3 separate regions of the Homo sapiens genome follow, and all the other regions are reported to be linked to region 3. The links are microRNA targets in miRTarBase. Many come from high-throughput screens and were not tested one by one. Region 3 holds a microRNA gene; each other region holds the end of a gene's coding sequence.
What was found. Region 3 holds the annotated microRNA hsa-miR-4776-5p (GUGGACCAGGAUGGCAAGGGCU, at 1,450-1,471, shown strand). A microRNA usually pairs through its seed, bases 2 to 8, with sites in the 3' UTR of a target mRNA and lowers its output. Matches are read on the target gene's strand: a 7mer-m8 pairs with bases 2 to 8, a 7mer-A1 pairs with bases 2 to 7 and ends in A, and an 8mer does both.

Region 1 (4,299 bases), not on the chromosome of region 3:
CGGTTCCTGCTTTGTACTCTGATGCCTATGACATATTCCAAATCATAGAACTGTACAATCTTCCTGATGAGAATGAGATATCCAGCTCTTCTTTCCACTGTCTGTATCAGTATCTCTCACCCACAAAGTACCAGGTAGGAGGACAGGGTTCCTCTCTCAGCATCTTTGCTGGTCCAGCTGTAGGCCTATCTCCTGCACAAACCTGGCCCAATATGACAAGCCAAGCCTTTGAAGCCTACAGTCTAACAGATAGCCTGGAATTCCAGAAAACCTCCAATATGGTAGACTTGGGATTTCTCTGACCAGAGTACTAATAAATATAGATCATTTAGAAAAGTGGTCTTCTTGCCTCTTGTACATGACTGTTTTTTTCCTTTGTCTCATTTTAACCCAACATCTGGGTCTGTGTCTCTGATTTCCATGTAAATGTTGCAAAAAGAGTTTTCCAAGTAGAGCTGGGCACTACGTAATCAGCCCCACAAGTCTCCCTGAGAAGCCTGCCTAGTCCCTTTCATGGCCAATGAGACTCCAAAATTCCCTTCCCAAAACTATCTTGGATTTTCTAAAAGTAGGACAGTGGTTTTGGGGGTTATCCACTTTTATTTTTTTGAAACTAGCTCTCATTCTGTCACCCAGGCTGGAATACAGTGGTACAGTCACGGCTCACAAAAGCCTTGACCTCCTGGGCTCAGGTGATCCTCCCACCTCAGCCTCCTGAGTAGCTAGGACTACAGATGCTCGCCACCACACCTGGCTAATTTTTTTTTTTTGAGACTGAGTCTCGCACTGTCACCCAGGGTGGAGTGCAGTGGCGGGATCTCAGCTCAGTGCAACCTCCACCTCCTGGGGTTCAAGTGATTCTCCTGTGTCAGCCTCCTGAGTAGCTGGGATTACAGGCGTGTGCCACCATGCCTGGCTAACTTTTGTATTTTTAGTAGAGACGGGGTTTCACCACGTTGCCCAGGCTGGTCTTGAACTCCTGACCTCCAGTGATCCGCCTGCCTTGACCTCCCAAAGTGCTGGGATTACAGACATGAGCCACCGAGCCTGGCCAATTTTTGTGTTTTTTGTAGAGACGAGGTTTTGCCATGTTGCCCAGGCTGGTCTCCAACTCCTGGACTTAACGCCATCCACCTGCCACAGCCTCCCAAAGTGCTAGGAATACAGGAGTGCACCATCGCACCCGGCTGGGTTATCTAGTTTAAAAACACTTTTTTTCAAGGAAACCGAAGAAACCATCATCCACTTTTCTCTCTGTATCATTCTGATTTTAGTATATGTGTTGTGGAAGTGAGTACACTATCATCCACTTTTAATGACAGAAAGTTATAAACTTACATTTTGTTTCCAATTTTTCATTTTTTGTTTGTTATTTGTTTTTTGTAGACAGCACTCTGTCACCCAGGCTGGAGTGCAGTGGCACCATCTTGGCTCACTGCAGCCTCTGCCTCCTGGGCTCAAACAGTCCTCCCACCTCAGCCTTCTGAGTAGCTGAGACTACAGACATGCGCCACCATGTCTGGCTAATTTTTGTATTTTTAGTGGAGATGGGGTTTCGCCTTGTTGCCCAGGCTGAATTTGGGTTTTTTTAAAATGAGACTTTCAGTCCTAATTTGAGGGGAAATTACTGTCACCACTAGTTTTAATATAGTACAATGAAAAAATAATATATATATATATAGTACAATGGTCCAGACATAATAAGAGGTGTAAAAACTATCACAGGAAGAAATAAAAACAGATTTTTGAAGGTGAGATGATAAACTTGCAAAACTCACAAAATAAAGAGTCAAACTTTTAGAATGACAAGTTAGCATATTTTCCAGCCACATGATCAACCTACAAAATTAATACCATTTCTGAACACCAGTAATAAAGAAACATAAGGGCTGGGGGTGGTGGCTCATGCCTGTAATCCCAGCACTTTGGGAGGCCGAGGCGGGCGGATCACGAGGTCAGGAGATTGAGACCAGCCTGACTAACATGGTGAAATCCCGTCTCTACTAAAAATACAAAAAAAAAAAAAAAAAAAAGCCAGGCATGGTGGCACACACCTGTAATCCCAGCTACTCGGGAGGCTGAGGAAGGAGAATTGCTTGAACCTGGGAGGTGGAGGTTGCAGTGAGCTGAGGTCGCACCACTGCACTCCAGCCTGGACAACAGAGCAAGACTCTGTCTCAAAAAAAAAATAAAAAATAAAAAATAAAAAATAAAAGAAACATAAGATAAGTACCTCTCAATGAAAAATGTAAAAGTACCTAGAAATTCACAAAAAAATTAATACCTCTGTGGAGAAAACTTCAAAACTTAAAAAAGGACATAGAAAATGTTTTGAATAGGCCAGGCGCAGTGGCTCACACCTGTAATCCCAGCACGTTGGGAGGCCAAGGCGGGCAGATCACGAGGTCAAGAGATCAAGACCATCCTGGCCAACATGGTGAAATCCTGCCTCTACTAAAAATACAAAAAAAAAAAAAAATTAGCTGGGCATGGTGGCACACACCTGTAGTCCCAGCTACTTGGGAGGCTGAGGCAGGAGAATCACAAGGATTGAAACTATGCAGTGTGTTCTCCAAACATGATGGAACGAAATTAGAAATCAATAAAATTTGGGAAATTCACAAATATGTGGATATTAAACAACACATTCCTAAATAACCAGTGGTTAAAGAGGTAATCACAGTCTGAGCAACATGGCAAAACCCTGTGTCTACAAAAAATAAAAAATTAGCTGGGCATGACGGCCAGAGCCCATGGTCCCAGCTACTCGAGAGGCTGAGGTAAGAGCATCCCTTGAGCCACAGAGGTCGAGGCTGCAGTGAGCTGTGACTGTGCCACTGCACTCCAGCTTGAGCAACACAGTGATACTGTCTCAATAAATAAATAAATAGAAGAAATCATGAGTAAAATTGGAAAACACTTTTAACTGAAAAAAACAAAAGCACAACAAACCAAAACATGGGATGAAGCTAAATCAATGCTTAGAAGGAAATTTATAGCTTCAAATACTTATATACATATTTTTTAAAAGTAGCTTTACATAGGAAGGAAGTGGCATAGTTTTATCAATATCTGTCAAATTAAACTTCAAGGCAAAACTTTTTTATTGAGATGGAGTCTTGCTCTGTCACCCAGGCCGTGCAATCTCGGCTCACTGCAACCTCCGCCTCCTGGGTCAAATGATTCTCCTGCTTTAGCCTCCCAAGTAGCTGGGACTACAGGTGTACGCCACCACACCCAGCTAATTTTTGTATTTTTAGTAGGGACAGGTTTTGCCATGTTGCCCAGGCTGGCCTCAAACTCCTGAGCTCAAGTGATCCTCCCGTCTCAGCCTCCCAAAGGGCTGAGATTACAGGTGTGAGCTACCTCACCTGGCCAAAACAGTTTTTTTAGAAATGAAGTATATTAGACAACAACAAAAGGAACAACTAACCTGAAATATATAATAACTTTGAACTTAAATATACTTAACAACATATACCAAAAATATATGAGGCAAATTTTAGCAAAAATTAAAATTCTTAAGAAAACTTCACTAATATATAGTCATAATGTGGTATATTCATAGAACATTCTCAATAATTGATAATAACAGTCCAAAGAAAGCAGAAAGAAGGAAAGCCTAGAACAGAAATAAATGAAATAGAGAATAGAAAAGCAATACAGAAAAAAAATTATGAAATCAAAAGCTGGTTCTTTGAAAAGATCTACAAAATGGCAAACATTTAGCTAGATTGACCACCCCCTCAAAAGACTCAAATTACTAGAATCAGAAACAAAAGTCAAGATTTTATTACCAAACTTATAGAAATAAAAATTATTAGAAAGAAATACTATGAACAATTGAATGCCAACAAATTAGATAAATGAAATGGACAAATTCCTAGGAAGACACAGAATACCAAATCTGACTCCACAAGAAATAGATGTTGTGAATAGAGCTTGCTATGGTATGAATGTGTCCCCCACAGCTCATGCGTTGGAAACTTAATCCCCAAAGCAACAGCTTTGAGAGGTGAGACCTTTAAGGGTTACTAGGCAGAGCCCCCATGAATGGATTAATGCCATTATTGTGGGAGTGGGTTAGTTATCTCAGAAGTGGGTTCCTGATAAAAGGATGAGTTCGGCCTTCTTCTTCCCCAAAATCTTTATCCCCACCCCCACCTCTATCTTTCTCTCTCTCTCTTACCTCCTCCTCTCCCTTCCTTCTGCCATGGGAGGATGAAACATGAAGGCCCTGGCCAGGTGTGGCCCCTCCATCTTCCGTCTGAGACTGGAAGACTTCCCAGCCTTCAGAAC
Region 2 (4,000 bases), not on the chromosome of region 3:
ATACCAAAATTAATTTATATATATTATACTAGCAATGAACACACGGAAATCAAAGTTCATACCTAGATGGAAGTTTGACAAAAGATGTACAAGGGTTGTAAGATGAAAATTACAACACACTGATGAAGAAAATCCAACAATATTAAATGAATGGAGACACATTCCATGTTTGAGGATCGTGGGACTCAATATAGCAAAAATGTTCATTCTCCCCAAATTGATACACAGGGTTAAAATAATTACTATCAAAATTCCAGCAAGATATTTTGTAGATATAAAATTATTCTAAAATTTATATGGAAAGGCAAAGGAACTAGAATATGAGTATGGTTAGGGTTGTCTTCACAGTTGAAAATCTTTCATTTAACCAGAGACATTATAGGGGAGACACTCTGTAAAAAGCTGGTCTCAAACTCTTAGATTCAATTGATCCTTCTGCCTCAGCCTCCCAAAGTGCTGGAATTACAGGTGTGAGCCACCATGCCTGGCCACTTACAAGAGACTTACAAAAGTGAGGCACTAAATTATTAAAGTAAAAATCAATAAATTTCCTTGAAAAATGCCCTGTATAAATGTGATTATTGTATTTTCAGCTTCAGTTTGATTTCACATCACCATCAAAATCAAGGAGCACATAAAAGAAAGCAAGCTTGTTTACTTTTATTTTTATTTTTATTTTTTTGAGATGGAGTCTCACTCTGTCACTCAGGCTGGAGTGCAGTGGCGTGATCTCGGCTCACCGCAACCTCCACCTCCCTGGTTCAAGCAATTCCCTTGCCTCAGCCTCCTGAGTAGCTGGGATTACAGGCACACGCCACCACCACACCCAGCTAATTGTTTTGTATTTTTAATAGTGATGGGTTTTCACCATGTTGGCCAGACTAGTCTCAAACTCCTGACCTCAGGCACTCTGCCCACCTCGGCCTCCCAAAGCGCTGGGATTACAGGTGTGAGCCACCGCACCTGGCCAAAAGCAAGGTTATTATACTCACTTTGGCACGGGAGAAGACCTCTCATAACCAGCAGACAATTTTCTCAGAAAACCTATGTGTAATGAATGTGGACAAGGATTCGGTGATGGCTCTAGACTTGAAATTCATCACTAACTAGATTTAGGAGACAGCCCCAATATCTTTAATAAAATATATGGGCTTTAACGATAGCTGAGTTTTTCCCATTCATGAGTTTTCATCCATAAGCCCATCACCTTGTCAGTGTTGGAAACTTCAGAAATGTGATGCACCTTCAGATGGATTAAAGTCTTCACGTTTATTAAGGAGTCCATGACAATGCTACATCTTTTACAGATAATGAGTATGGTTAGGGTTGTCTTCACATTTGAAACCCTTTCATTTAACCAGAGACATTACAGGGGAGACACTCTATAAAAAGTATGTGCTTTAAATATTCCTGCTTATGTTATGTTCATCTTTATGCCAATATTTTTATGCTGTCCAATTCATCAGATTTTCTTTGTTGTTTAGTGATTTCCACGCCCCCCACCCCCAAATACTAGCCTTCCCAAGTTTGTGGAAACAGTGTACTATTTTGTTATAGAAACTAAAGAAGATCAATCAGGGGTGGTGGTCCATGCCTGTAGTCCCAGCTTCTCAGGGGATTGAAGCAAGAGGATCACTTAGGCCCAGGAGTTCGAGGCTATAGGGCACTGTAACTGCATCTGTGAATAAGCAATCCAGCCTGGGCAACACCGAGAGACCCCATCTCAAAAACAAAACAAAACAAAACAAAATGCTGTGCGCATGGCTCAGGCCTGTAATCCCAGCACTTTGGAAGGCTGAGGAGGGAGAATCGCTTGAGCCCAGGAGTTTGAGACCAATTTGGGCAACATAGTGAGACCCCATCTCTACAACAAAAATTTAGCCAGGCGTGTTGTTGCATGCCTATAGTCCCAGCTTTTGAGGGGCTGAGGCAGAAGGATTTCTTGAGCCTGGGAGGTCAAGGCTGCAGGGAGCCGTGATCATTCCACTGCATGCCAGTCTGGGTGACAGAGCAAGACTGTCTCAAAAGAAAAAAAAAAAAAAAGCCAATTCTTGCCTAATAATGGTCAGAGTTTATAGTGGTACAACCAGTTTGAAATACTTTTCGGAAGTATCTACTAAAATTAACATATTCATATCTTATAACTCTTTGCTGTCACATATATCACATTATTAAGGTTTCTCTACAGAACAGACACTGAATTTGAAGATGTGAGCCCTGACTGAAGCATGTACCACAATCTCCACACTTCCATGGTTTTTCTCCAGTGTAGATCCTCTTATGCATATCAGCATTCAAGTGATCCAGCAATCCCACTACTAGCTGTATATCCAAAGGAAAGGAAATCAGTGTGTTGAACTCCTATCTGCACTCCTATATTTATTATAGTACTATTTGCAATAGCTAACATATGGAACCAATCTAAGTGTTCATCAACAGAAAATGGTAAAGAAAATGTGGCATACATACACAAAGGTACACTATTTAACCATAAAAAATAATAAAATTCTGTCATTTATGGCAAGATAAAGATAAGCTTTGGAGAACATGATGTTGAGTGATGTAAATTCAGGCCCAGAAAGATAAATACCACATGTTTTCACACATATGTGGAAGCTAAAAAGTTGACATCATAGAAGCAGCATAGCATTGGCTGGGCACGGTGGCTCATGCCTGTAATCCCAGCACTTTGGGAGGCCAAGGCAGGTGGACCATTTGAGTTTGGGAGTTCAAGGCTAGCCTGGCCAATGTGGTGAAACCCCATCTTCACTAAAAATACAAAAATTTTTAGGCATGGTGGGCATGGTGGCTCACGCCTGTAATCCCAGCACTTTGGGAGGCCGAGGTGGGCGGATCATCTGAAGTCAGGAGTTCAAGTCCAGGTTGGCCAATATGGCAAAACCCCATCTCTACTACGCATACAACAATTAGTCAGGTGTGGTGGCGGGCGCCTGTAGTCCCAGCTACTCGGGAGGCCAAGGCAGGGAAGAATCGTTTGAACCCAGGAGGCAGAGGTTGCAGTGAGCCGAGATCAAGCCATTGCACTCCATACTGGGCGACAGAGCGATACTCTGTCTCAAAAAAAAAAAAAAAAAAGTACAAAAATTAGCTGGGCGTGGTGGTGCGTGCCTGTAATCCCTGCTACTCAGGAGGTTTAGGCAGGAGAATCGCTTGAACCCAGGAGGTGGAGGCTGCAGTGAGAAAGGATCATGCCACTACACTCAAGCCTGGAAGACTCTGTTCTCAAAAAAAAAAAAAAAAAAAAAAAAAAGCAGAAGCAGCATGGCATAGCAATTACTAGAAGGGAAAAGTAGGAGAGAGGGTGGATGATGAAAGATTCGTTAACAGATATGAAAGTACAGTAAGATGATGAAAGGAACAAGTTCTAGTGTTCCACAGCACTAAAGGTGACTATAATTAATAATAACTTATTTTCAAATAACTAGAACAGCAGTTTTTGAACGTTCAAAGCACAAAGAAATGATAAATGATCCACAAATAAATGATAAAGGAGGTGATGGATATGCTAATAACACTGATTTGATCATTATACATTGTATACATGTATTGAAATATGCTGTAACCCATAAATATGGACAATAATTATATATCATTTAAAAATAATGATAAAATCATATCTAGATTCAAGCGCCTCTCGTAGCGCTTCCCACAGTCCTCACATTTGGATGTTTTTTCTCCACTGTGGTCGCTTTGTTGGTCTTGAAGGCATGAACTGTGCTCACTGCTCTTCCCACAATCCTCACATTGGAATAGTTTTTCTCTGCTGTGGAGTCTTTGATGGGTTAGATGAGTTGAGGCCCATCTGAATCCCTTTCCACACTCCTCACATTTGTAAGGCTTTTCTCCAGTGTGAATTCTTTGATGGAAACGAAGTTTTGAATTCTCAGTAAACCTCTTCCCACACTCTTCACATTTGAATGGTTTTTCTCCAGTATGGAGTCTCTTATGTCTCAAAATACCTGAGGCCCACCTGAAGCTC
Region 3 (4,356 bases):
AGTGAGACTCTGTCTCCAAAAAATGAAAGTATACAAAGGACAGTTGTTTTACCCAGAAAGGAAGAAATAAGAAAGTCAATTATTAGAAATTTGTTTAACTGGCATGTGTTGAGTTCCTATACCTTATTAGATACATTTGAACATTCTTTCATTAAGTTCTTAAAAAATATGAATTAGGTATTATTTTCATCTCCCATCTTACAGATAAGGAAACTAAGATTTAGAGAGTATAGGTCACTTGCCCAAGGTCACGGACTACTGGGAAGCAGGGACATGAATTGAATCAAACTCTTTTCAAATCTAAATTCAGTGCACTTAATTTCTGTGTCATGCCATCACACTTTCTCTCCATGAAAGCTAATTTCTCTTTTAACATTAGGTTTTATAGGTAGTTCTACTAATTATGTTTGTGAAGTTTTGTTTTCTTTTCCCTTCACAAGGGCTGGACACAGATCAGCATTCTCATGTTATGAATGATTTAGCTTCGGATTACTCTTCTGCAAATGGAGGGAGGAGGCAAACCTCAAATTAAAGGCAGGGTTGGAATATAAAAGTCTCAGCTCCTCAAGAGTCCAGAAAAACCTCCTCCCAAGAGTGCTGTGGCCTCTTGGCGCCTCTCCAGGCCCAGCCTGCCTGCAGGACTTGCTTGCTCCATCTTGCCGGTTCTCAACGGAGAACTCTTTGTTTTGGACCCTGTTCTTGTATTCTGCTCAGTGGACTTGAAAATTGGAAGTTTCCTTGCTTCCTGGTCCTTCCTGTGCCTGGGAAACAGACTTGGAATTCTTCTTTTCTTCTCTTCATTCAGCAAAAAGACAACCCCACCAGTTACCATTCCTTGTATTAGTTCTTGGAACCCAGCCTGGGCCAACAGTTAGGCCCCCTGAGAAAAGAAGCCTAACTTCATTTGCCTAGTCCTTCCCTCAATAGATTAAGAAATGAAGAGAAAAAAACCTTCTTAACATATACTACATAATACTAATATTTACTTTAAAAAAAAAATAAAGGCTTAACCCCTGCATTTTCATCACTTGAGAAAATTGATATAAGCTAATATTTTCAATAATTTAAAGAAAATAAACCATTTCTTTCCTGCTCCCCTCCCCTTCTGAATATTCGGCATAAATAGTTGCTTGGGTAGAATAAATTCTCACTATTCATTGGTTTGAATGCTTGTGTATATCCCAAGGGTATACACAATGACCTCTACACACATGACCTCTGTTTTACATAGTCAACTTTTATTTTGCTGAGGCAGAAATAATGCATGCAGCAAAGACTGCCAGCTGTTTACCAAAATCCCTTCTCCTCTTCTTCCTGAGCACACAGCTAGACTATACTTCCCAGTCTCCATTGCAATTCTGTGTGGCCACATACTAGAGCTCTTGCACTGCTGTGTTTTTGCATCCCCTTCTACCTTCTGGCTTCCTGAGATGGAGCAGACTATATGCAGTGGACCAGGATGGCAAGGGCTCTACTGTCCTTTCAGGAGAGCCCTTGCCATCCTGGTCCACTGCATATAGCCGAGCTCCCACTGACCTGGAACCCTCATCCTGGACTGTTGTCCAAAAGAGAGATAGATGTGTTTTTCCCTCAAACATGAGAAGCTGAATTTGGCGGTCTATTTGTTACGATATCATAGCCTGTCCTAACTGAAACAGGGCACATGTAGTATGTAGCACAAGTTTCTTAGCTAGTGAGAGTGCTTAGCAGAAGCTCAGTGCCTGCCCTTCACCAAGATTTGAGGTTTCCTACTCATGGAGTGTCATCAGTAACTCTTGCCAAGTGATAAATCTTTTGAATATTGGTGGAATATGATAACACAAAGTAAACTAACCCCTAAATGTTGGTAGCAAAAGTAAAATACAATTGAGTGTGTCTTAGAGGGCAAAGGTTCTTGGCTAAAAGGTGGTTGTTTTCTAGAGTTTAACAATAAAATACCAAACTCATATTAGAAATAGGAATAATTTTACCATATGCTCCACATATAGAAAGAATAAAAAACTCAATTCTGGAACTGTTTCACCAAATGCTTCAACCAGAATTTTAAAAATAAATATATAAATAACTATGGTCCTGAATTTATAATATTAATGATATGTAGGAATAATTTACATTTTTTGATTTAACTCACAACATTTCAGGTAGAAAATTATATGGTATATATATGGAAATTTAATGATTTACACACACCCACACTTACATATATACCGACATACAAAGTTATCACCTTATGATATATTCCTTCTAAATATTATTTGTTTGATCCAAACTCTAGGATGAATTTACCTTCTTAATTCTCTAAAACTATGATATTAGACCACATATTTTTGCATCTTAAATTGTAAAATTTCAGAACATAGAGAAAAGAAGAAAAGAGATATAAATGATATTTATTCAAGACTATTGAACTCATGTGGAAAAATAGTCCCCCGAGGACGTCAGGTCCTAATCCTTAGAATCTGTAAATACTACCTGATACAGAAAAAAGGTTTCTGTCTGTAGGAACCTAAGAAAAGACATTTTTAAATTAAAAACAATTAAAACATTAAAAATTTAAGGTCTTTATAGGTATGATTAAGTTAAGGATATTGTGATGAAGAGGTTATCACAGCTTATTAGAATGGGCCCTAGATGCAGTCACGTATATCCTTATGAGAGAGAGGCAGAGGGAGAGCTGACAACGAGGAGAAGGCAATGTGATCAGGGAGGCAGATGGGAGTGATGCAGCCACAAGCCAAGAAGTGCTGGCAGTCCCATGAGCAGGAAGAGGAAAGGCCAGATTCTCTCTTAGAGTTCCCAGAGGGAGCATGGCCTGGCTAACTCCTGGATGTAGGCCTAGTGAAACTGATTTTGGAGTTTTGTCCCCTAGAACTGTGAGAGGATAAGTTTATGTGGTTTTAAGCCATTGAGTTTGTGGTGATTTGTTATAGCAGCCACAGGAAACTAATCCAATTCCATTTTCTAACAGCTGAGTTCAACTTTGCTAAGTTTATATCTGTGATATTTTATCCTAAGTCTTTGGGGACCTAAGTTTGTTTTCCTTTTCCTTGGCCTGGAAAAGACAAATGTCCCACCCATTGTATTACATGTTGTTGAATGTCTTTAGTGAGCTCAAGAGAGGGAACATCTCTCTTCTCCAGCTGAGTCTGAGTCATTGAAAAACAGAGTAAGATAGATAGAGAGGAAATTATCAATTTTATCATTGTTAAAGTTGATTTTGGAGGATCGCCTTACTATCACTGAATCTCAGATTTAGAGAGACTTACCTACCTTATTTCCAACATTAGACAATGTACTCTAAAATGTAGGGTCTGAAATAGCAGAGCAGAAAGTATGCTTTCTCTATGCACATAGCTCTCAAGAGAATGAGGAGGTAAAGGGACTCAATAACATTAAATGATTCCCTCTTCTCCTGAGAACAGAGATGTCAGGACTGCTGTGCTAGTGGAAATCTTTTTATATGGAAAGAAGTGCTGGGAGTGGAGATGAAACATTTCCTATGGTTCCATCTCCTTATGGGCCAAGATTGACAGCTATCTGTGGGCAGAAACAGTGACACTCTAGGCTTTACAAGCCGAGTGGAAGACAACTTAAACCATAGATAGATAGTAAAGTCCTAGCTGCTCTCAGCTTAAATGTGAATTTTGGACTTGGGACAGTGTTTAAGATCCTAAATGAGTCTGCTGAAGTCTAGTTAAGTCCTGAATATCCCCCGATTCACACATGGACCTTTGTTTGTTAGCATATTCCACCCACCTCTTCTTTTAATCTGTTAAAGGAGACTTCTGCTTTATACAATCAGGTAATAAAATCTGTCTTTATAAATATACTTGTTAGTATGCATTTAGAAATCTAAGTCCTCACTCTTTTATAGACAGGCACTAATAGGTTACCTACTTTTTTCACCAAATGATTCTTACTTGAAAATTAAAAGAACATTGCATTTAGTGTTAAAAGCCTGTAACCTCAACATGAGGTCTCAATAACCCAGCTGCTATCTATTTATCTTGGTAGATTCATTTATTCTCTCTTTCCTAAGGTTATTTTAACAATGTTGTGTTATTTGTAATAAAAGTTGCTTTTGTTTCCACACTGGGCCAGAATGGATTGAGTAATAACATTAACAAATACCTTGAGCTCACATCCGCACCTTTCACCCTGAATTGTTTTCCAATGCTAACTCATTGTCTCCTCAACATTCCAGTGGCTCAGTGACAGGGGGTATTATTCCCATATTTCAGAGAGAAAAAGGAAAGCATGAAAAAGTCAGAGCACACCTGTATCTAGAAATCAGAGCCTTTGATAATGCTATTCTACTTTTTTTTCCTAAGGGCATACATTGTGTTAAGTATCTCT

Region 1: the mRNA of ARGFX is a reported target of hsa-miR-4776-5p. Seed matches in the 3' UTR shown: 7mer-m8 at 1,688-1,694.
Region 2: the mRNA of ZNF284 is a reported target of hsa-miR-4776-5p. Seed matches in the 3' UTR shown: 7mer-m8 at 2,708-2,714.

What each region holds. Positions count from the first base shown.
Region 1 is chr3:121,586,299-121,590,597 of GRCh38, forward strand. ARGFX (arginine-fifty homeobox) reads left to right here. Exons shown (of 5, transcript NM_001012659.2): 5 at 1-4,299. The coding sequence ends at 302. Among named protein-coding and RNA genes, the nearest start is that of FBXO40, 4.9 kb to the right of the region's middle.
Region 2 is chr19:44,086,864-44,090,863 of GRCh38, reverse strand. It overlaps ZNF284 (zinc finger protein 284), which reads right to left. Exons shown (of 5, transcript NM_001037813.4): 5 at 1,251-4,000. The coding sequence ends at 3,604. Among named protein-coding and RNA genes, the nearest start is that of ZNF224, 5.5 kb to the left of the region's middle.
Region 3 is chr2:212,923,421-212,927,776 of GRCh38, reverse strand. It overlaps MIR4776-2 (microRNA 4776-2), which reads left to right and starts at 1,441; the gene lies at 1,441-1,520. MIR4776-1 (microRNA 4776-1) reads right to left here and starts at 1,520; the gene lies at 1,441-1,520.